7 linked regions of the Homo sapiens genome follow. The protein of the gene in region 5 purifies or fractionates together with the protein of the main gene of each other region. This does not show direct contact. Each region holds a gene or a part of one and is shown on either strand. Other genes may lie near its edges. The genes, in order: RAB3B, LRRTM2, EHD2, PHGDH, KCTD15, GSTM2 and HERC6.

Region 1 (3,500 bases), on a different chromosome or scaffold from region 5:
TGTGCAATTCACAGCAAAGTAGTCAGGAATCGATCTCATGAAGCCCGCAAGGACCAAACACCCCCACCCTGATTTAGACCTGTAGGTGCTGCCCCACGACCCCCACCAAAGCCCATGTAAGGAGCTGAGTCCTTAAAGACTGAAGATGGACTATTTCCTGGAGAAAAATAAAATGGAAATTGTACTTTAAAAAAAAGCCATCTATTTTAATACTATGTTTTATTTGTTAATTTAAAAGGTAATACATACTTACGGAAAATAATTCAAGCATATCCTATTTGCAAGTATTACCTTTTTTACCAGCTGTAGCTCAATTATTATTATTTTTATTTTATTTTATTTTATTTTGAGACAGGGTCTCTCTCTGTCGCCCAGGCTGGAGTGCAATGGCACTATCTTGGCTCACTACAGTCTTGATCTCCTGGGCTCAAGCAATCCTCTTACCTCAGCCTCCCGAGTAGCTGGGACTACAGGCATGTGCCACCATGCTCAGCTAATTTTTGTACTTTTTGTAGAGATGGGGTTTCACCATGCTGTCCAGGCTGGTCTTAAACCGGGATCAAGTGATCTGCCCTCCGTGGCCTCCCAAAGTGCTAGAATTACAGGCGAGAGCCACCACACCCAGCTGCATTATTTTCTTAATTCCTAGCATAAAATACAAGTAATATGAAACCTAAAGGTTTACACTGAAAAGTAAGTCTTGCTTCCATCTCTGATTCCTGATCCAGTTCCCCTCCCCAGAGGCATACATGTTATCAATTTATATATCCTTCAGAGATAGCCCTTGCATATATAAGCAAAGAGACCTATTTATACTTTTTATTTCTATATAAATAACATACCATGCATTCTAGTCTATACCTTCTATGCATATTGTAATAGCTGACATCATATGTACAAGGTATAGGCTAGAATATATGGTATGTTATCATTTAGCAAATCACTTAAATTTTAAAAGTACAATCATGAACTGCATAACAACATTTCAGTCAATGACAGACCACATGTACAATGGCGGTCCCATAAGATTATAATGGAGCTGAAAAATTCCTATTGCCTAGTGACATAGTAGCCATGGTAACATTGTAGCACAACACATTACTCACATATTTGTGTTGATGCTGGTGTAAACAAACCTACTGCATTGCCAGTTGTATAAAAGTATAGCACATATGATTATGTGCTATACATAATACTTGATATTGATAATAAATGACTATGTTACTGGCTTCTGTATTTACTTACTACACTTTTTATTGTTATTTTAGAGTGTACTTTTTCTATTTATATTTAATATTTTTTAAAAAGTTAACAGTAAAACAGCCTCAGGCAGGTCCTTCAGGAGGTATTCCAGAAGAAGATATTGCCATAAGAGATGACAGCTCCATGCCTATTATTGCCCCTGAAGACCTTCCAGTGGGACAAGACATGGAAATGGAAGGCAGTGATATTGATGCTCCTGGACCCTGTGTAGGCCTAAGCTCAGGTGTGTGTATTTGTGTCTTCCTTTTTAACAAAATAATTTTAAACATAAATTTAAAAACTAAGGAAGAAAAGAAAGAAAAGGCCAGGTTCAGTGGCTCATACCTATAATCCCAACACTTTGGGAGGCCAAGGTGGGAGGATCGCTCAAGCCAAGGAGTTTGAGGCTGCAGTGACCCATGATTGCACCACTGCATTCCAATCCAGGTGACACACTGAGCCTTCATCTCAAAAAAGGCCATACGGTGTATTTGTGCTTTAAGTTAAGTGTTGTTATAAAAGAGTCTATGGCTGGGCATGGTGGCTCAGACCTGTAACCCCAGACTTTGGGAGGCCGAGGCAGGCAGATCACTTAAGGTCAGGAGTTCAAGACCAGCCTAGCCAACATGGTGAAACCTCATCTCTACTAAAAATACAAAAATTAGCCAGGCGTGGTGGTGCGCACCTGTAATCCCAGCTACTCAGGAGGCTGAGGCACAAGAATTGCTTGAACTCGGGAGGTGGAGGTTGCAGTGAGCAGAGATCCACTGCACTCCAGCCTGGGTGACAGAGCAAGACTCAATCTCAAAAAAATAATAATAATAATAATAAATAAAAAATAAAAGAGTCTAAGAAGTTTTAAAAATTTTTTAAGTTTATAAGGTTTAAAAGTTATAGTAAGCCAAAGTTAATTTATTATTGGAGAAACATATTTTTAAATAAATTTAGTGTAGCCTAAGTGTAGAGTGTTTATAAAGTCTCCTATAGTGTATGGTAATGTCCTAGGCCTTCACATTCACTCACCACTCACTCACTGACTCCCCCAGAGCAACTGCCGGCCCTGCAAGCTCCATTCATGGTTAAGTGTCTTATATAGGTGTACCATTTTTTATCTCTTATACCATATTATGCCTGGGTGCAGTGGCTCACACCTGTAATCCCAGCACTTTGGGAGGCCAAGGTGGGTGGATCACTTGAGGTCAGGAGATAGAGACCAGCCTGGCCAACATGATGAAACTCCATCCCTATTAAAATACAAAAAATTAGCCAGGCATGGTGGCAGATACCTGTAATCCCAGCTACTCGGGAGGCTGAGGTTGCAGTGAGCTGAGATTGCACCACTGCATTCCAGCTTGGGTGATAGAGCCAGACTTGGTCTCAAAAAAAAAAACCATCATATTTTTACTGTACCTTTTCTATGTTTAGATGTGTTTAGCTACACAAATACTTACCACTGTGTTACAATTGCCTGCTACATTCAATACAGTAACATGCTGTACAGGTTTGCAGCCTAGGAGCAATAGGCTATCTATTCCATATAGACTATGTGTATAGTAAGCTATACCATATACCATATAGGTTTGTGTAAGTATACTCTATGATGTTCATACAACTATGAAATCGGCTAATGACACATCCCTCAGAACATATCCTTGTCATTAGCAATGCAAGACTGTACTTAAATACTACAAAAATTTAGTAGTACCAAAAGTACTACAAAAATATGAGATTTTGAGGCCAGGTGCCGTGGCTCAGGCCCATAATCCCAGGACTTTGTGAGGCCGAGGCAGGCGGATCATTTGAGCTCAGGAGTTTAAGATCAGCCTGGCCAACATGGTGAAATCCAGTCTCTACTAAAAATATAAAAATTAGCCAGGTGTGGTGGCGCACACCTGTAATTCCAGCTAGTCAGGAGGCTGAAGCACAAAAATTGCTTGAACCCAGGAGGCGGAGGCTGCAGTGAGTCAAGATTGCACAACTACACTCCAGTCTGGGTGACAGAGCAAGACACTGTCTCAAAAAAAAAGAAAAGAAAGTAAGGGCTGGGCGCGGTGGCTCATGCCTGTAATCCCAGCACTTTGGGAGGCTGAGGCGGGTGAATCACGAGGTCAGGAGTTCGAGACCAGTCTGGCCAACATGGTGAAACCCCATCTCTACTAAAAATACAAAAAATTCGCTGGGCGTGGTGGTGGCTGCCTGTAATCCCAGCTACTCTGGAGGCTGAGGCAGGAGAATCACTTGAACCTGGCAGGCGGAGG
Region 2 (2,589 bases), on a different chromosome or scaffold from region 5:
GTGCTCTTTTTTAAGGTGGGCAGATTAGTTTGTCAAAGTCTCAGCCCAGTTCAATTCAGTTGATCTCGAGTGGTGAGTATTTTGTCTCTTGTTAAACCAGACCCTGGGCTTGTCTGGGCAGAGACAGAAGCTGATTTAACAGCATAGAGCACAGCGCCCTACTTCCCCACAGACAGGCTGAATTAGAAGCCCCTATTACAAATAAGAGCACCACGAGCTAAAATTTACCAACCCATTTATCAGGATGACCATTGCCATTTGTCAGGTGACAGACAGCTTGGTCACAACACAACTGTGTCCTGAGCACACAAGATTCCATCAGCCCTGAAGGACAGCAGAGGAGTATTTTCCATCATTTCAAACCACAAACAAAATTAAGATTTAAACTGTGGGATGGGTAAGAAATCCCCTTCTTTGGCTGGGAATCTCCACCTTAATCCTTAAAGGACCATAACTGGCAAAATCCTTAGTGTACGGACAAAAGCAAATTGGAAAAGCCAGCCATTTACTAATTCAGAGGAACAGCATAGCCAAGGCTAGCGAGGCATACTTTCCAGTTGAAAAAAATCAAAATTTTTTGCCTTCCATTTTTCTGGGTAATGTCCTTTAAGAAAAGTGAATGACAGTAGTACCAAAAAGGTATTTTCCTTTCTCATTTAAAAGCAAAAACCTCCCTTTTTAATTGCCTGTAGAAGGCAAGATTTTCTTTCATTTTTGTCCATTTGTGTTTCAGAATCAGCACAGGTTTGAAGATTAGACTGTTAGTCATCTGTGCTTTCTTTACCAACTGGCTAGAACGGAACAGCATCACAGCAACGCTGCGGATCTTGGTTACACAGTGTCAGAGCTTTTGTTTTTTGATGGGGTTTTATCCTCTTCACCACCACTACCCACTCCATTTTTTTTCTATTTTTAAGATTAGAGGAAAATGACCATTAAGAACCAGAAAAATAATTAATCTCTCTGGAAAAAGGAAAGCTAAAGAAGACTATGATACCATACCCATCTAGAAACCAAGAACTAGTTTGAAATCGTTTATATTCATTTCTGTAGCATGACAGGGATTTCAATCACCTTTCTGAAAAGAGTGGGCTGATAAACTTGTAAATCCACACACAACTCTGAGAATACCCACTGCCAGCATCAAAAAGCAAAGATACTAATTTTTTAAGCCAAAAATCTGTACTAACACATGTAATTTCTTAATGTGCCTAAGTTAATTTCTGTATCAATTCAATAAATGGAATTGACTGAACTTCCCAACGCCACTAATTATTAAAATCCATCTGCTTATTCTAATGCTAGTCACCAAGAGCTAGACTCCATCTTTCCAATAAAAATGAGCCCTATGTAGCACTAGGTTTGAATTCTAAAATTCAAAACAGGCATTTCATTTTCTTAAGGCACACTTCCTACACACAGCTATCAGGGGAAAAAGCTATAAATGTCCTGTTCTTTTTCTGAAGTGTGGATATCAATATAAAATTTGTTAAAGAATATTTTTAACAGCTGACTTACATGATCGTTTTCCTAATACAGGAATACAGCGACAGACCTATCTGAAAAGTCTGTTTGGGGGCATACTTTTCATATCTTATTGACTAAAGCCCTTGAGCCAGGAAAAAAAAAAAAAAAGAGAGAGAGACAGTAAGGCCATCTATAGATAATTAAATATTTCTCTATCTAACCTGGGGCAAACTCATAGTACTTGAATAAGGCCAAAAACAAATAGAAAATTACTGTTTAAGCTTTCATTCTGCTATTGCAAACATTTGGAAACCTCTGCAACTCTTTCAACTAACATTTTTGTCCTTAGCGGTTTTTTTTTTTTTTTTTAAGTCTGATATATGGAATGTTTGGTGAACCTTCCTATCAACACTGAGACTGGAAACTCAAAGTACAGTCCAAATACATTGTGTTCAATCACCTTCAAGAGCCATTTTTCTTTTTGGGTGGGAGGTGGGCAGATGGGTTGAGGGTGGGAAGAAAATACTATTATGCAGGGTGTTTTGGGAGGGGGGAGGGTAACATAAAGAGCAGTGTACAGGCAAGTTTTGTTATTAAAATTGTGTATACTGTAAAAAGTGAATGCCTTCTTTTTACTTTTCCTTGATAACCTATCAATTTTGACATGTGAAACTTGAAAAGCCATTTGTGACAGACATAGAAATCTTAAATGAACAGTTGTTTTATTCCATGTTCCTCTACAATGTCAAATGTGTCCACTGAAAAAAGGGGCAGCTAATCATTACCTGTCTTCAGAGAGAGGTAAAACTAGGATAAGAAGAAAGTAAAGGTAAAGTGGTGAGAAGGGAGAGTGCCTAAAAAGCTGTCATGCAGTAAGAAGCTGCTCTGTCAAGAGCCTGAGCAAGTGGACAAACAACTGTCCCAGGCTCACAGGGCATGGAGTTGGCTGCCCCTCTCTGAATCCTCCATTACAGTGAACTAACACCACAGAGAGCTTCGGAAAGGTACCAATTGCCTGTATCTAGCCAACAGCGACTTGGCCTCTACCTTGGGGGTTGGTTGATGTCCATCCCAGCAGCACCTTCCATGCCACTCCTAGGAGGGAGGTCCCACAGGTGCTTA
Region 3 (3,106 bases), about 14 Mb from region 5:
GATTCGCCCGCCTCAGCCTCCCAATGCTGGGATTACAGGCATGAGCCACCGCGCCCAGCCATTTTTGTTTTGTTTTGTTTTGTTTTTTTTTGACAGGGTCTCGCTCTGTCACTTAGGCTAGAGTGCAGTGGTGCCAACATAGCTCACTGCAGCTTCCAACTCCCAGCCTCAAACGATCCTCTGGCCTCAGTCTCCCAAGTAGCTGGGACCACAGGCACACACCACCCACCCAGCTAAATTTTTGTGATCCTCCCTCCTCAGCCCCCGCAATTCGCTGGGACTATAGGTGTGCGCCACTACGCCCAACTAGTTTTAAAAATTTTTTGTAGAGACCAAGTCTTGCTATGTTGCCCAGGCTGGTCTCGAACTCCTGAGCTCAAGCCATCCTCCCACCGCAACCTCCTAAAGTGCTGGGATTGCAGGTGTGAGCCACTGTACCCAGCCAGAGTGGCAGCTCTTTACTGACACATGCAGAAGTATTTGAACATCTGAACAACCTGTTCCGCTCGGGCACCCACCAATGAGAAGATACTTGGGCAACAAGGTCCCAGAGGCTTTCTCCTGTGCCCCAGAATTACTGGAGGGTGGGGAGGCTGGGGCCCCTCTGATGAGTGAGAGCAGCGGCCCTTTGCCAGCTAGCAGAGAAGGATTTCAATATTTTCGCATCAAGTATAGCTTTCTCAGAGCATCCACACCAGCCTAGAACCCTAACCGCCCTCTACCCAACTCCAGCTGCCCAGCCAGCACGTACAACATTAAAAGTTAAAAAAAAAAAAACTCAGCAGGCTTGGGTGGCTCACACTTGTAATCCCAGCACTTTGGGAGGCTGAGGTGGGAGAATCACTTGAGCCCAGGAGTGCAAGACCAGCCTGGACAACATGGCAAAACCCTATTTCTTTTCTTTTCTTTCCTTTTTTTTTTTTTTTTTTTGACGAGTTTCGCTCTGTCACCCAGGCTGGAGTGCAATGGCGCGATCTCAGCTCACCGCAACCTCCGTCTCATGGGTTCAAGCGATTCTCCTGGCTCAGACTCCCAAGTAGCTGGGATTACAGGCGCCTACCACCATGCCCAGCTGATTTTCATATTTTTAGTAGAGATGGGGTTTCGCCATGTTGGCCAGGCTGGTCTCGAACTCCTGACCTCAGGCAATCTGCCCACCTCGGCCTCCCAAAGTGCTGGGATTACAGGCATGAGCCACTGCACCTGGCCTCAAAACCCTATTTCTTAAAAAAAAAAAAAAAAAAAAAAAAAAATTAAAAATTAGCCAGGTGTGGTGGTGCACGCCTGCAGTCCCAACTACTTTGGGAGGCTGAGACAGAATCTCTTGAACCCCAGGAGACAGAGGTTGCAGTGAGCGAAGATAGCACCACACTGTACTCCAGCCTGGGTGACAGAGCAAGACCCTGTCTCAAAACAAAAAAGTGTGCAGGGGGGGAGAGAAAAAAGAAAGTTAAGAAAGCTTAATTCCTGTCACAGTGCTACCACACCACACAGAAAGGACTGAGTGGCTGGCTGCCAAATTTGGAGGTGAGATTTGAGATGATCAGATCATCAGGGGTTCCTGGGACCACCCCCTCCCCACCGAAGAAGTCACTTTGGGGTGTAGGGGTGGACTTGGCGTCACACTGCTTCTCACACGGGCTACTCTAAGTGGCCCAGACTGCACCAGGACAGTCTCTGCGAAAATGGATTCCTTTCACAGCCCTATGTGAATTTCCTGAGCCAAGGCAGAGAGGCCAGCTGATCACGACTCTGAAGGGTTGGGGATCCTAGGTTGCAACCTGGATTCCCTGGCAGCCAGAGTATGACTAAGTTCAAGTCCACTGAGGCAAGCACAGGTTGCATGTGCAGCTTCTACTGTTAGCCTGTCCAGTATGGCAGCCACTAGCCACATGTGCTTATTTACATTAATTAAAATGAAATACAGGCCGGGCGCAGTGGCTCATGCCTGCAATCCCAGCACTTTGGGAGGCTAAGGCAGGAGGATCACCTGAAGTCAGGAGTTTGAGACCAGCCTGGACAACATGGTGAAACCCCATCTCTACCAAAAATACAAAATTAGCTGGGCGTGGTGGCGGATGCCTGTAATCTCAGCTACTTGGGAGGCTGAGGCAGGATAATTGCTTGAACCCGGGAGGCAGAGGTTGTAGTGAGTCAAGATCTTGCCACTGCATTCCAACCTGGGCAACAGAGCAAGACTCCATCTCAAAAAAAAAGAAAAAAGAAATACACGTTAACATTCCATTTGAATGTGGCTAGTGGCTACCATACTGGACAGTGCAGAATGAAACATTTCCATCATTGTAGAACGTACTGCTGGACAGCTCTGTTCTAGAAAGTGTTCTTGGTCAGGCATGGTGGCTCCTGCCTATAATCCCAGCACTTTGGGAGGCCAAGGCAGGAGGATCACTTGAGGCCAGGAGTTCGAGACCAGCCTGGCCAACATGACAAAACCCCATCTCTACTAAAAGTATGAAAAATTATCTGTACGTGGTGGCACATGCCTGCAGGCCCAGCTACTTGGGAGGCTGAGGTGAGATAACTGCTTGAACCCAGGAGGCAGAGGTTGCAGTGAGCCAAGATCACGCCTCTGCAGTTCGGTCTGGGTGACAGAGTGAGACTCTGTCTCAAAAAAAAAAAAAAAAAAAAAAGCTAGCCAGGCATGGTGGCATGTGCCTGTAGTCCCAGCTACTCTAGAGGCTAGGCAGAAGGACCTTTGAGCCCAGGAGTTCAAGTACACAGTGAGCTATGATCACCCCATTGCACTCCAGCCTGGACAACAGAGTCTCTGAAAAATATATAAATAAATCTCTAAAAAATATATAAATAAATTTTTAAACGTATATATTTTATTTTATTTATTTATTTATTGAGACAGAATCTTACTCGGTCACACAGGCTGGATTGCAGTGGTGTGATCTCAGCTCACTGCAACCTCTGCCTCCCGGGTTCAAGGGATTCTCCTGCCTCGGCCTCCCCAGTAGCTGGGACTACAGGCACGCAACACCATGCCCAGCTAATTTTTGTATTTTTAGTACAGACGGGGTTTCACCATGTTGGCCAGGCTGGTCTCGAACTCCTGACCTCAGGTGATCCACCCGCCTTG
Region 4 (3,500 bases), on a different chromosome or scaffold from region 5:
AGAAGCCTGCAGACCTGTCACCTCCCACACTGGAGAGGCTCCCGTGAAGCCCGGCCTCAGCAGTCATTTCCCATACCATGATTCTTTCTCTGTTTAAAAAAAAAAAAATTCTTCCAATGATATCTTTATGAAAACAGAAAGAGAAGCATCTGTGTTTCCTTCTAATTACATCTTGTAGCTGCCTGTTTGATTTGCATCTTTCTAAGATGGTTGACTTTACAAGTTATCTCAATAAAAGTGGCCAGATGCCTAACTCAGAACCAGAGCATTTTGAACCACAAAATGGAATTGAAATTTTGGCCCAGAACAAGCTGGTTCTGTTATCAGGCCCCTGGGTGGGGCAGGGGGCAGCCAGCCAGGTCCTAGACATAACTTTTGGGGGATATGGGGCTTGTGTCCCCTCAGTGTCACAACATGCCTCACAGTGGACTTCGCATGCGTTGATATTTGAAGCACGATCATCAAAACTTTGTGATAATTGATCGTAGTGTTTAGTAACAATGTAAACACTTAAAAAAATTCAAGATAGAAAATAAAAATGAAGGCAAGTTGGGACTGCCAGAGAAGACCCGTCACTCCTCATCCAAGTTATCTGCGACTCCCATATGTTTTGTGTCAAAGACTCACCTTTATTGTGCTGTCCAATCCCTTCCCCAGTGCAGAAACAAGTCTCCCATGGAGGGGGCTGGGGCAGACACAGTTTGCTGAAAGGAGCAATTTTGAGTGGTTGTGGCATTCTGTGTCCATTTCTGGCTCCACAGCTTTCTTCATTTGTAGGAACAAGTCCTTGTCCTGTTGTTAGTGGCTGATGGAAGTTGTCACCCACCAGGCACCAAGGCAGGAGTGACCCTATACTGTCTTTCTTGTGGAGCTGGGTCTTGGCAGCCAGATCTTGATTCAGGATCTGCCATGCCTCTTCCTGACCACAGCCCCGCTCCTCCATCCTCTGCAGGTGAATGCCCAGGCCCTTACCAGTGCCTTCTCTCCACACACCAAGCCTTGGATTGGTCTGGCAGAAGCTCTGGGGACACTGATGCGAGCCTGGGCTGGGTCCCCCAAAGGGACCATCCAGGTGATAACACAGGGTGAGCTGGGGACCTTGCAGAGGGAGGGGGAGGAGGGGATGAGGGAGTGTGGGATCTGCCCTGCTGGGTGTATTTGCTGCAGGACACAGGGTTAGTGAGAGGCAGTGAGGGTGCCTTGGACCCTGCCCTGAGTATAGCTCCCTTACTACTGGTGGGAGGGTGGTAAAGGGAGGGGTTAAAAAAAGTCGTTGGAAAGATGTACTGAATATTCATAAATCATGTTTATGTAGCATTTTTAAGACCTAGATATTTTGGGTGCAAGAGAAACCTCTACGAGAGAGAGAGTTTCATGCGAGAGGTCGTAGGATGGCTGGAGGGAGGCCCTAATTAAGCAACAGGATGCTGGATTCTGGTTTTTGGCCCTGTCTCTTCCCTGCTGTGTGACTCTCCCTTCTGAGGCTTGGATTCTTCACTTGTAAAGTGAGAGTTAGGGGCAGATGAGCCAGGAGCGGTGAGGACACTTTGTGCTCTGTAACTTACTAAGGTGGTACCTTGGGCCGTCTGACAGCCCTCGAGAGAGAGTTTGCTCAGCCGTGGAGTGGGAATGAGAACAGTGCCCTCTGACCACCCCTCGGGCTGCTGAGTGGGCTGTGGCCACCTTTGCAGTGGATCCAGTACTGTGCGGATGTGGTTGAGTGACCAAGGAGGGCTCCAGTTTCCTTAACCCTGTAGACGTGTATCTTTCCCCATGGACTCTTGGGTGTCTCACAGTTGGGCAGAGATTGCAGGGAGAGGGCAGCTAAACCCTAGGCATTGACAATACCAGGGAAGGGCAGAGCCAGGGGGTCCCACTGGCCTGGGTGTCCAAGCGCCGAAGGAAACAAGGCAGGGAGCTGGGCAGCAGTTGCTTCGGTTACTTCTTTCTGCTTTGATTTCCTGAGGCTGGCAAGGCTCTGAGTGCCAGGAAGGGGTAAGAGTAGGGAATTTTCCTGTGTCCCCTGGGAGAATAATAGGTAGGCCAGGATGGCCAAGCCAGGTGCAGGGTTGGGGAGCGGAGTGGAGTTGAGCTGAGTTTTGGAGAGGAGTTTCTCAGGGTGGTTAAAACATCCTGGGTTTCCTGGCTTGGGCCCAGATTATGCCTCTTCTGAGCCCACTGAAGGGCGAGTGGACCTGCCTGGAGCAAGCTGCCTTTGGGGTCCCCAGGGCAGCGAGGAGCCCATAGTCCAGAGCTAGGTGCCAGTGGCTTCCTGCCCCCTCCTGTAGTGCTCAACAAACAGTGACCTCATGGTAGCTTCTCTCTGTCCCCAGGAACATCCCTGAAGAATGCTGGGAACTGCCTAAGCCCCGCAGTCATTGTCGGCCTCCTGAAAGAGGCTTCCAAGCAGGCGGATGTGAACTTGGTGAACGCTAAGCTGCTGGTGAAAGAGGCTGGCCTCAATGTGCGCCCCTCTCCCCCACGCTGCCTCCCCATCCCTGTCAGCACTAGTCTTCTCCCCCACATTTCCAGAGCCCGTTCTCTGAGCGGAGGCCTAGGTCCCAGCCTTGCATCGGCCTGTCTACCTGTGAGGGGTAGCTGCAGTTTCTTCAACTGCAAAATGAAGATACTGCCTGGCCCCGAGTGTTGCTAATGGCACTGCTTTGTGTATGAGTGCTGTGGGAATGGAGGCAGTAGAAGTGTCCCCATTTCACAGCCAAAGAAAATGACGAGCTAGTGTGTTTGACTCTGCCCGACATGGCTGCCAGGCCATGTTTGACTCTGCCTAACTCCCCTCAGGGCTCCTCATGCCGTAGCACCCGGGTTCTTGATTCACTTGCAAGCTCTAGGAGCCCTGCTGCCTTGCACGGCTTCCCGTTGGCGCCTTCCCCTCTGGTTCCCTGTTTAGATCAAAGTCTGTTTCAAAGCCTGTTGCTCAGCCAGTGGGAGCTGGCAGAAGGGATAGGCAGTAGAGCTGCCATGTCCTCACCCCTCTGCTCCCCTCCACTCCTGCATGCCAGTCATGCCACTGATGCCGTGCAGGAGGCTGTGTCAGAGCAGGAGGGGCCAGAGTGGAGTCTCCTCACAGCCCTGCCTCCCTGCTTTTCTTTCCTCCCTGTTTTCCTCCAAGCCTTCGCCTGTGCCTGGCAGATCTCTTTGCCCTCCCTTTAAGGAGATCATTGGCTGTTCCAGGAAGCTGATGCCGAAGGGCACACAGCTTGGCCCATTTGCCCTCTCCCTTCTGGTCCTGAATTACTGAGCACATTATCCAGGCTGGAGCCCTACATCCTACCAATGGGTGATTTGGCCAAGAGAGGAGGGTGGACGTGGTGCAGCCAGGAGGTGTAACAGTCACCTTGCCTTCTCCACACAGGTCACCACCTCCCACAGCCCTGCTGCACCAGGGGAGCAAGGCTTCGGGGAATGCCTCCTGGCCGTGGCCCTGGCAGGCGCCCCTTACCAGGCTGTGGGCTTGGTCCAAGGCACTACGCCTGTACTGC
Region 5 (4,178 bases):
GGCGGTCGGGACCCAGGCGCCGTTCCGGCCCGTGCGCACCCGCCCCGCGGTCCCAGCCGGTCTCCGGCCCGGGCGTCCCTGGAGCCAGGCGGGGGCGCAGTGCCGGCCAGTCGCGCGCTCCGTTTCCTAGGAGCCGGGAAATGGTCGCCGAGGAGGAGGAGGAGGCACGGGCGGGGCGCAAAGGAAACAGGAGGAAGAGGAAGGGGAGGAGGAGTGGGAGTGGGAGAAAAGGAGGAAGGGGCGGCCGAAGCGGAGACTGGGGAGGGGCGTCCGGGGCGCGGACCTCGGCCGCGGGGAGTCTTGGCTGCCGCCGTCTCCATCGCGCCGCGCGCGTAAAGGAAATGGCGCGTCTAGCCGCGAGCGGTCGGCCCGGTGCCCCAGCGCGTCCCTCCCCCGCGGCGGCCGACCGCGTGTCCGCAGACGTCACGGGAGAGGGGCAGCGGGGCAGAGACCCTGGGAGGGCGGCCAGGGAGCGGGGGAGGGGCGGCCTGGCCCCCGGCTCCGCTCCAGCCCCGACCGACTGGCAGCCCAGTTTCTTCCCAAGTCCCGCCCCCAGCCCCGGGCGCCGCGGCGGCGGCTGCTCTCCTCTTTGTAACCGAGGAGTCAAGAAATGTGAGAAACGTGCCCTGTGTTACTTATTTGGGAGCCGAAAATTTATGCCCAGCTGAAAGCGCCCGGGGAAATATTACATCAGATGAAATGACAATGATTAAAATCAGCCTCTCCCCCGCCCCCTCCCCGAGCCCGGAGGAGGCCCGGGCGCCGCGTGGCCGGCCGGCGGGGGGCGGGGGGCTGGGCCGCGGAGGGCGCTGGGGCCTGGGCGCACCGCTCCCGGGAGGGTCCTGGCCGCGGCCCCGGCGGGAAGGCGCGGGCTTCGGGAGAGGCGGGTGGGGATCGCCCGGCGAAAGGAGGGGAAACGGCGCGTTTTTGTCGCCAGGCGCGGGCGCGCGGAGCTAATTGCGACTCTAATCCTCTGCCCCGCGGCGCAGCCGAGCCCCGAGCCAGGAGTCGCCGCGCGCGCCCGTTCGCGCTGGGTAATTTGGGGCCGGATCGCTGCCCTTTACGTCCGGGCTGGGCCGCGGCGAGGCGCTGGCTAGGGGCTGGAGTGGGGGGCTGGTTTTCTCTCCAGCAATCGAGGGAGGCCGCCGGAGAGAGAGGAGGGAGGAGAGGAGGTGGGAGCGGCGGGAGGGCAGCCGGAGAGCGGCGCGAGGAGGAGGCGGCGGCGGCGGAGGCGGCGGCCGCGAAGAGGGGAGGAGGCGAGGGGAGGGTGGGGAGGGGAGGCCCCGGCGCGCCGCGCCGCGAGGGGCCGCGTGAAGCGGGGGCCGGGGCGGGAGGGGTGGGTGGGGGGAGGGTTGGGGGCGAGAGAGAAAGTAACTCCAGGACGAGACCGGAGCGACCCGCGCAGCGAGCATAGGCGGCGAAGCTGCGCCCGGCGCCCGAGACCGGCAGCTGCGTGGGGCGGGGGCTGCGCCCGAGCCCGATCTGCCGGCTCCGAGGTAAGCTCAGCGCGGGCGGCCACCGCTCAGAGCCGCGCAACCCTGCCCCGAAGTGGCTGCGATACCGAGAAAGTCGCCCGGCCAGGGTCTGGACCTGGGCGGGGGCGGCCGCTTTGTCCCTCTGCTGGGCGGCGGGGGCTGGCGGCGCGGGGGTGCCCAGCACAAAGGCCTGGTGCAAGAGTGGGGTTGCCCACGTGGGCTGGTCCTGGCCGCGGGTGGACCCTCCCCACGCGGGCGGTCTCGGAGCTTCCTGCCGCGCGGTGTGTGTGTGTGTGTGTGTGTGTGTGTGTGTGTGTGCGCGCGCGCGCGCGCGCGCTTGTGGAGGTCCCCGCACTCTGGCCCCTGTTCTGGGCCGAGCGCCCTGCAGAGCTGGCGAGTTTCCGGGGTCAGAAACGGGCTCACGCAACTGGGGCTTCGGGATGCACAAGTCCCGGCTTGGCGCCCAAAATCAGAGAAAGTCTCCAGTGGGACAGATGTGCGTCCTCTGACGCCCACCCCACGAGTCCGAAACCTGGCAGGAGGGGCTGTCGCGCTGGTGGTGGTCCCGGGCGCGCAGGGTTTGGGGCTGGGAGAGGGGCCGCGATGGGAGGGATCGCCGCCTGCAGATCCGGTTCCCCGCTGCCCGCCCGCACCCCCTGACCTGGACGCGCGCACCCGGCACACACTCGCAAACACACCCGGGGGCGGACCCCCGCCTCTGCAGCGCCTTTCTGTCTTCCGGCGGCCCCCACCCGCGACTGCAGAAAGATAAGCTTCAAGTTTTCGCTCCGTATCTCAAATGTGCATGAAGGAATTTAACTGCACGAGTGAATAACAGCATTAGTTTCAATTAATTTTTTTTTAATCCCGGCAACAATAAACTTTGAGAACAAAAGCGCTTTTACGTCCTTAATTAGGCGAGCTTCCCATCTGTGGTCTCCAAGTGTCTGCCTCTTGATTTAACTTTGTCCCCGCCCCGCCTCCGCGGCAACCCCTCCCAGCCCAGCCCCGCGCTTCGGGTGCCGCGGCCACCCCGCCCCGCGGCGCCTCCAGCCTTGGCCCAAGCCCTCTCCCGTCGCCCCTAAGTTCACACCGGCCGGCTGGCTCCGCGGCGGAGGCGGGAGGGGGGGGGTGGGGAGGCTGGCGCGCACCAGGTGGCCCGCCTGCCTCTCCGGGGCCACCCCTGGGACAATTGTGCAGGCCCCCAGGACTTTCGCCCCGGGCCAGCGCCCTGAGTGCGGAGCCGAGGGGAGCTCGAGAGGCGCCTTCTGTTTACCTTTTATGGTTAAAATAACAGCTTAGCAAAGAAGCGACTTCAGAAGAAGCGATTTAGTGAAATCGTCTCAAGCTGCCGCAGCTCAGCCAGTTTAATCACCCCCAGAGAGCCGAACAACTGCGAGCGCAATGGGACACAAAATCATTTTGTGTGTAAATGAGCGTGGCATTCTGCTCACTTCTCTCTGCTCGGGCGGGCGGGGCTCGGCGGCGGGCGGGCAGGGACCCGGGTCTCCCGCCGCAGCTGGAGAAGCGGGTCACTACCGGGCCAGTTTGGAAACCTGTGGGCCCTCCCGACCGCTATCGCTGAGGCCCCTGCAACAGGCGGGCCAGGGCGCACTGGGGCTGGGTGCTGGGTTTGATGCTGGTGCTGGTGGAATGAACTTGTATCTCTCACTGCACCCACTTTTGTGCTTCTGACTTAAGCAGTGGTCTCGGAAAGAGGGTCGTGGTCCCGCACGGATGCGCTTGTTGGGAGAAACCTTGGAGATTCACGGCAAGGCGTAAAGCCTGGGGCTTCCAACGGTAAGTTTCTGGCTTGCCATGAACATCAGGTTGTTCTTGGGAGGGAAAAGGGGCTAAGAACAGAGTGGAGCGGCTTCTGTGATGGAGGCTTGGTGTTCACGTCACTTTGGAATAGTGTCCTGGTATTGGGGAAAACATCTTGCAGTCCGCTTTGATAGAATTTCAGCCAGAATTCCTTCCTGTTCAGTTTATCCTCAGCGCGTCTTCCCTTCTGACTCCTCCCCCAGCAGAGCCTCCTAGGGCAGGATAATCCATTCCTGAGGTCTGTTTTGGTTCTCAGAACTCCTTGAGCTAAGTGACCTGGTTTTGTTTTTTTAAGCTTGTAGAACTCAGGAATGCCAAAAGCAGTGGATTCTGAGTCCACAGGCCCCAGTGAGGGTATATATTAAACATCACTGTCTGCCCATTGCAACCTCCCACCCCAGTTTTATGTCAGGAAACTTGCCCGGGCACTCAGGGAGAGCAACCTTGCTTACATTTGCAGGATTTGATTCTGGTTGGATTAAAATTGGATATTGAATTTCAAGGCACAAATTTTGATCCCAGAGTTTTAATGGGAAAAAGCAATCCCATGGGTCCCAAGAATTTCAAGTGGTTTCTCTCTTAAAGGTTAAACCTTCGAGAGACGTCCAGGGTAGGTTTGTGGAAGCCAGTGTCTGTGGATGTGTGAAGGGGGGTGACTATTCACGTGCAAATCTCCTCTTTCCTCCCTTTTGAGACAGCTGTAAATCAGTGAACGGGGCTGCAGAATTCTGCCCCTCCTGCATAGGGCCTGCAAAGCGCCCCTGGGTGTGGCTTCCAGGGACTGAGGGACAATCTTATTTCAGGTGACTACGGCACAGAGGAGAGTTACTGAGTGCCTCTGGGGAGGAGCAGTAGAAAGGGTCCATTGGCTGATCTGCT
Region 6 (2,365 bases), on a different chromosome or scaffold from region 5:
CAGGAAAGAGAGGAAGTAAACCCAGAGAGAACGTCCTGATGACAGCTGTGCAGCAAGCCTGGAGAGGGTACCTGGAAGCCATCTGAGAAAAACAATAGAGATTGGGTCCTGGAGACCTAACAGAAGTGATGCAGTCATATAGTGGAGAAGGTAAAAGGGACCCTGGTTCTCTCTGATGGAGATTCCACCCCCTTGGGGTCCTATTCAATGAGACACAAGCTCTGTGCAATTATGGAAAGTACTCAATACGGCTGGATGAATGAATGGGAGATCCAGGCCAAGAAAGAGACATCCTTTCCACAGTGCCTCATGGGGCTTCCTGCTCTGAGTCTCTCAGGAATGGGAGCAAGAATTCTCAAGCGCCTTACTATGCCCAGCAGAATCCTTTAGAACCCAGCCACTGCCAGGATCACCAGCCAGTCCCTTGGAAGAGGCAGTGACAGACAGACAGACAGTCTGGGTAGATGGCCAGGAGCAAATAAGACAAGACACACAGCAAATGTGGTTGAGGCTTTACTTCCATCAGGTAGGCCTAAGGCAGGGACCATGCTGCAGGAGCAGGGCCTGTAAACCAGTCAATGCTGCTCCTTCATGCAACACGGGGACAGCTCGGGGCTGAGCTCCACAGGCGAGGGGCCAGGCAGGCCCTTTAAAGCAGACACAACCACTAACAGGAAGGAAGGTCAGGCTGGCTTTAGTGCAGGGAAGGGTAATGATGGGAGGGGATGTTCACGAAGGATAGTGGGTAGCTGAGGCTTCAAAGGGCCTGCATGGGACAGGGGTTTAGGGGGAGTGAAGAGGGACAATGAAGTCTTGGGAGTAAAGATGGGAATAAACAGGAGAAAGGAACGAGGAGGCAGGTGCTGGGATGCAGAGTCCAGCTGCGCTGCACAGCCTGGGCAGCAGGCTGAGTATGGGCTCCTCACTCCCACCTCCTGGCCTTCAAGGCCCTACTTGTTGCCCCAGACAGCCATCTTTGTGAACACAGGTCTTGGGAGGAAGCGGCTGGACTTCATGTAGGCAGAGATCTTCTCCAAGCCCTGAGAGGGGGGAAAATAAGGCCAGAACTCAAGGTCAGCTGCCCATGAGGGCTGGCACAACCCCACTGCAGACACAGCAGGTCAGGGCCCTGGCCACAGCCTTTCCATGTGGGCTCAAGTGCTGAGGCATCACACAGCTTCTTAGGGTCCCCAGATCTGCGGAGTTAACTCTTCCAACTTCCTTTAAGTAATGTTGTACCACAGTAACAGCTAACACTTATGAAGATTCTACACGGTGCTGGGTGCTCTGTACCCAAGAGAAATTACAACGTAAGCTTAGAAAACCCACTCGACTACTCTGCAAGGCTGAATCTATTATCACCATTTGTCATGTGGGAAACAGAAGTTCAGCAACTTCCTTACATTTAAATACCTAGTAAGGGGAATAGAACTTCAATGTAGCCTGGTTCTGTCTCTCTCCAGTTCTGGCCTCTTTCTGCCAAATTCTCTTCTTCTTCTGCCCCACCACCCCTCACACCAGGCCCTGTCACTCCTTGACTGCACAAACAGTCTCCTTTTCCACAGGGAGGCTCTTGGCTTGTCTGGGTATAGAGACACAGAAGGGACCTCCAGCAGAACAAAGGGGCTCTGAACACACTCACCCAATGTCTCAGTAAAACCTGGATGAAAGTGGAATGGGGAGTGGCAGTGCACAAGAAAATCAAAGGCGAGACTAGGCTCTAATCATTCCCCTTAAAGCAGAAAGTCCAAGGTTCTCCATCTGGTATCTTAGCAAAATCTCACTGTGCCCTAACCCATGGCATCTCCAGCCCTGCTGCAGATCAGGCTACATGACACTCAGATGTGCTGTGCACAATCTTACCAGGATTGAATGCCCAGATAAGGTATTCAAAAACATCCGGCTCACACCTGTAATCCCAGCACTTTGGAAGGCCGAGACGAGTGGATCACCTGAGGTCAAGAGTTGGAGACCAGCCTGGCCAACATGGTGAAAACCCATCTCTACTAAAAATACAAAAATTAGCTGGTCATGGTGGCGGGCACCTGTAATCCCAGCTACTTGGTAGGCTGAGGCAGAGAATTGCTTGAACCCAGGAAGCGGAGGTTGCAGTGAGCCAAGATCGCACCAATGCACTCCAGCCTGGGTGACAGGCTTGACCCTGGCACATAACGGGCCATAGCTCTCAGCTCTCCTCCATCCCTCCCTTCCCACCACCTCTTACCTAACTCCAAGGCCACTCAGCCTGGACCAGAACCGCAGAACCAGAGCTGATGGGAACTAGCTGAGCAAGCAGATCTCTTGATGGGGAGTGGAAAAGGGAAACAGATTCAAGGCTCAGAAGCCTGTTGGACAAATGCCTCAA
Region 7 (2,873 bases), on a different chromosome or scaffold from region 5:
CCACCATGGGGGTTCCACCTCCCCCCTTTTTTAGCACATGCACAGTAAGAAAGAAGCACCATGGAGTAGCTACCCACCTGTATAATCAAAGATTGGGGTAGGGGCTGCCAGAGATTCGTGCCCTATGCGGATGGTACACCTGGTCCTAACTCGTTTTTCATGCCCTATGTAGATCAGACACCACCTCCTCACTAGCTCATCTATAAAAAACCCTGCATTTCACCACAGATCAGCAACTCATTTTTCTGGGACCCCTCTCTGTAGCAGAGAGCTATTCTCTTTTCGCCTATTAAGTTTCTGCTCTATACCTCACCCTTTGTGTGTGTCCATGTCCTTGATCTCCATGGCTGTGAGACAAAGAACCTTGGGTGTCACCCCAGACAATGAGGCCACTTCAATGGCTTCATTCTAAACAAGACTGTACCTTTTTAAAAGATACATAATTATGTGTCCATCTAGTACCACAGTACTTACAGAGGAATTTTTTCTTTTCATCCAAGGTTAGTTTGTGGAAAGCCTTCCAAAACAACTGTATAGTAGGATGTGATTTTTGGTATCCTTGCTCATACTTTGAATTCTTGAGAGAAAGAGGGAGAAAAATGATTTGAGTGGGGTGGAATATATAGAAGTTGTTCGGAAAAATTGGGGCACTTTAGGTATCACCTACCTGTTCAAACTGTTTCCAGTCATAATCAGTATTTCCAATGATTGCTGTCATTAGTTCTTCAGGGTAGAAATGTCTAAGTATCTCCTTCTCACAGACTCTATAAAATCCTCTCTGAAATTCCTCATAAACTGCTTTTACAGAGACGTTGAAAATGTAATCAATATACTTAGAAACATAGTCTCTCCTTGAGGGAAGCAAAAAAAAAAAAAAAAAAAGAAAGGAAGGAAAAGGCCAATGATTAAAAGATTTTATACTTTGTTCTTTTTACTATTTCTATTGAGAAGGAAAAGTAAATTACTTCTATATAGCACAAGAATGTTGTATTGTGACCAAAACCTGGTCAGCTAGAAGAAAGAAATTTAGAAAATATAATCAGAAGGTTTAAAACTATTTGGCTCACTTTCCTCACTGCAGTCAGGAGGATTTTTTTAAAACATGAATCTGAATATGTCATTCTCTTGCTTAAAGTCTTTCAAAGGCTTCCCATTGCCCTTGGGGTAAATTCCAAACCTCCTTAGCAGGGATCAACAGGCCTTCCCAAGCCTAGCTCCTCCCTCAATTATCTGACCTTGCCAGTCTCAGCAAGGGGCCTCTTCCCACTTCCATTTTCTTTCTTTCTTTCTTTCCTTTCCCTTCCCTTCCCTTTCCCTTTCCCTTCCCTTTTCTTTCTTTCTTCTTTCTTTCTCTTTCCTTTCTTTTTCTTTCTTTTTTTTAAGAGATGGGGTCTCCCTGTGTTGCCCAGGCTGGACTTGGACTCCTGGCCTCAAGCGAACCTCCCGCCACAGCCTCCTGAGTAGGTGAGACTGCAAGTATGCACCATGGTGCCCAGCTCCCACTTCCATTTTCACTTCTGGCCCCGTTCATAGGTCTTGTCTCTCTTTTGTAGTTAGGCCACAGAATGCAGCATTTCTTCTTTACCTGATAACTTCTACCATCCATTAGATTTCAATATAAGTAAGACTTTCTCAGGGTTGATCCTTTTGTTCCTTTGCTTGTCCCCTCTCACAACACATGTCACTTTGTGAAAATTATTCCTGCAAGGTCTGTCTTATACTACAGGATGTAATTTCTACTAAATGATTAATTTCCTGATGGCAGGGTTGCTACTGGAGGCATTTCCATCAGAGACATGATTGTCTCCCACACTTTGGGCAGCCTTTGTGGACTAGCCTATCTAAATCAACTCTTGTCTGCCTTCCCCTGTAACCATTGGTGTGCTGGTAAATATCTAACAACCAGCTCTCTGAAAAGGAGTGGGAGGGGAGGGGACACACATTTGCAGCATTGGCGAATTTCTGTGGTGTTAATATTCCCACTGTGGCTGATTTTCAGCTACTAATACTTTGATAATAAACTCTTAACATTTTTGAAAATTTAACAATCAGCTCTCACAAGCTGGTACTAGTGAGCTCCAGCATACCACCACCTGGAACTCCCTAGTTTCTTAATCAGTTTTAATTTTCTTCAGAGTGCTCATCCTTATCTGACATTATATTACATAATAATTCATTTGTGGCCAGGTGCGGTGGCTCACCCTTGTAATCCCAGTACTTTGGGAGGCTGAGGTGTGAGGACTGCCTGAGCTCAGGAATTCGAGACCAGCCTGGGCAGCATGGCAAGACTCCATCTCTATTAAAAATAATAATGATTCATTTGTGTATTGTCTTTCTGCCCCACTGGAATTTAAGCTCCAAATTTTGTCTGTCTTTTTGACTACTGTATCTCCAGCACCTAGAATAGAGTCTGGTACAGAATAGGGGCTCAAAAATATTTGCTAAATGAATAAATAGTAAAAAGAGCTACAAAGGAAATATTGAACCCTGAATTCTTTCTCCTTTTCTTTTATCTTAAAAGCTTCTTTTTTCTAAAAGATTAGGAGCTAAAACAATCACCTGAGAAGCTAAAATGCTTTTTTTTTTTTTTTTTTTTTTTGAGACACAGTCTCACTCTGTTGCCCAGGCTTGAGTGCAGTTGCGCAATCCCGGCTCACTGCAACCTCCACTTCCTGGGTTCAAGCAATCCTCAGCCTCCTTAGTAGCTGAGACTACAGGCATGTGCCACCACACCTGGCTAATTTTTGTAGTAGAGACGGGGTTTCGCCATGTTGGCCAGGTTGGCCTTGAACTCCTGACCTCAAGTGATCCACCCACCTCAGCCTCCCAAATTGCTGGGATTACAGGTGTGAACCATATTTAAAAATACATTT

The links.
Region 1: the proteins of KCTD15 (region 5) and RAB3B purify together in Homo sapiens (affinity purification with mass spectrometry, with the first as the bait; one large-scale study listed by BioGRID). This does not show direct contact.
Region 2: the proteins of KCTD15 (region 5) and LRRTM2 purify together in Homo sapiens (affinity purification with mass spectrometry, with the first as the bait; one large-scale study listed by BioGRID). This does not show direct contact.
Region 3: the proteins of KCTD15 (region 5) and EHD2 purify together in Homo sapiens (affinity purification with mass spectrometry, with the first as the bait; one large-scale study listed by BioGRID). This does not show direct contact.
Region 4: the proteins of KCTD15 (region 5) and PHGDH purify together in Homo sapiens (affinity purification with mass spectrometry, with the first as the bait; one large-scale study listed by BioGRID). This does not show direct contact.
Region 6: the proteins of KCTD15 (region 5) and GSTM2 purify together in Homo sapiens (affinity purification with mass spectrometry, with the first as the bait; one large-scale study listed by BioGRID). This does not show direct contact.
Region 7: the proteins of KCTD15 (region 5) and HERC6 purify together in Homo sapiens (affinity purification with mass spectrometry, with the first as the bait; one large-scale study listed by BioGRID). This does not show direct contact.

Annotation. Positions count from the first base shown.
Region 1 is NC_000001.11:51,980,701-51,984,200, forward strand, and holds part of RAB3B (ras-related protein Rab-3B), read right to left. Parts: intron 188-3,500; exon of another isoform or gene 1-187. UniProt on the Homo sapiens protein: The small GTPases Rab are key regulators of intracellular membrane trafficking, from the formation of transport vesicles to their fusion with membranes.
Region 2 is NC_000005.10:138,868,421-138,871,009, reverse strand, and holds the end of LRRTM2 (leucine-rich repeat transmembrane neuronal protein 2 precursor), read left to right. Parts: 3' UTR 1-2,089; downstream 2,090-2,589. UniProt on the Homo sapiens protein: Involved in the development and maintenance of excitatory synapses in the vertebrate nervous system. Regulates surface expression of AMPA receptors and instructs the development of functional glutamate release sites.
Region 3 is NC_000019.10:47,737,422-47,740,527, reverse strand, and holds part of EHD2 (EH domain-containing protein 2), read right to left. Parts: intron 1-3,106. UniProt on the Homo sapiens protein: ATP- and membrane-binding protein that controls membrane reorganization/tubulation upon ATP hydrolysis. Plays a role in membrane trafficking between the plasma membrane and endosomes. Important for the internalization of GLUT4.
Region 4 is NC_000001.11:119,739,434-119,742,933, forward strand, and holds part of PHGDH (D-3-phosphoglycerate dehydrogenase), read left to right. Parts: intron 1-952; coding exon 953-1,085; intron 1,086-2,333; coding exon 2,334-2,464; intron 2,465-3,373; coding exon 3,374-3,500. UniProt on the Homo sapiens protein: Catalyzes the reversible oxidation of 3-phospho-D-glycerate to 3-phosphonooxypyruvate, the first step of the phosphorylated L-serine biosynthesis pathway.
Region 5 is NC_000019.10:33,795,492-33,799,669, forward strand, and holds the start of KCTD15 (BTB/POZ domain-containing protein KCTD15), read left to right. Parts: upstream 1-1,378; 5' UTR 1,379-1,496; intron 1,497-1,625; exon of another isoform or gene 1,626-2,903; intron 2,904-3,176; 5' UTR 3,177-3,179; coding exon of another isoform or gene 3,180-3,275; intron 3,276-4,102; coding exon of another isoform or gene 4,103-4,131; exon of another isoform or gene 4,132-4,178. UniProt on the Homo sapiens protein: During embryonic development, it is involved in neural crest formation. Inhibits AP2 transcriptional activity by interaction with its activation domain.
Region 6 is NC_000001.11:109,673,422-109,675,786, reverse strand, and holds the end of GSTM2 (glutathione S-transferase Mu 2), read right to left. Parts: intron 1,041-2,365; coding exon 951-1,040; 3' UTR 501-950; downstream 1-500. UniProt on the Homo sapiens protein: Conjugation of reduced glutathione to a wide number of exogenous and endogenous hydrophobic electrophiles. Participates in the formation of novel hepoxilin regioisomers.
Region 7 is NC_000004.12:88,437,852-88,440,724, reverse strand, and holds part of HERC6 (probable E3 ubiquitin-protein ligase HERC6), read right to left. Parts: intron 852-2,873; coding exon 668-851; intron 578-667; coding exon 475-577; intron 1-474. UniProt on the Homo sapiens protein: E3 ubiquitin-protein ligase which accepts ubiquitin from an E2 ubiquitin-conjugating enzyme in the form of a thioester and then directly transfers the ubiquitin to targeted substrates.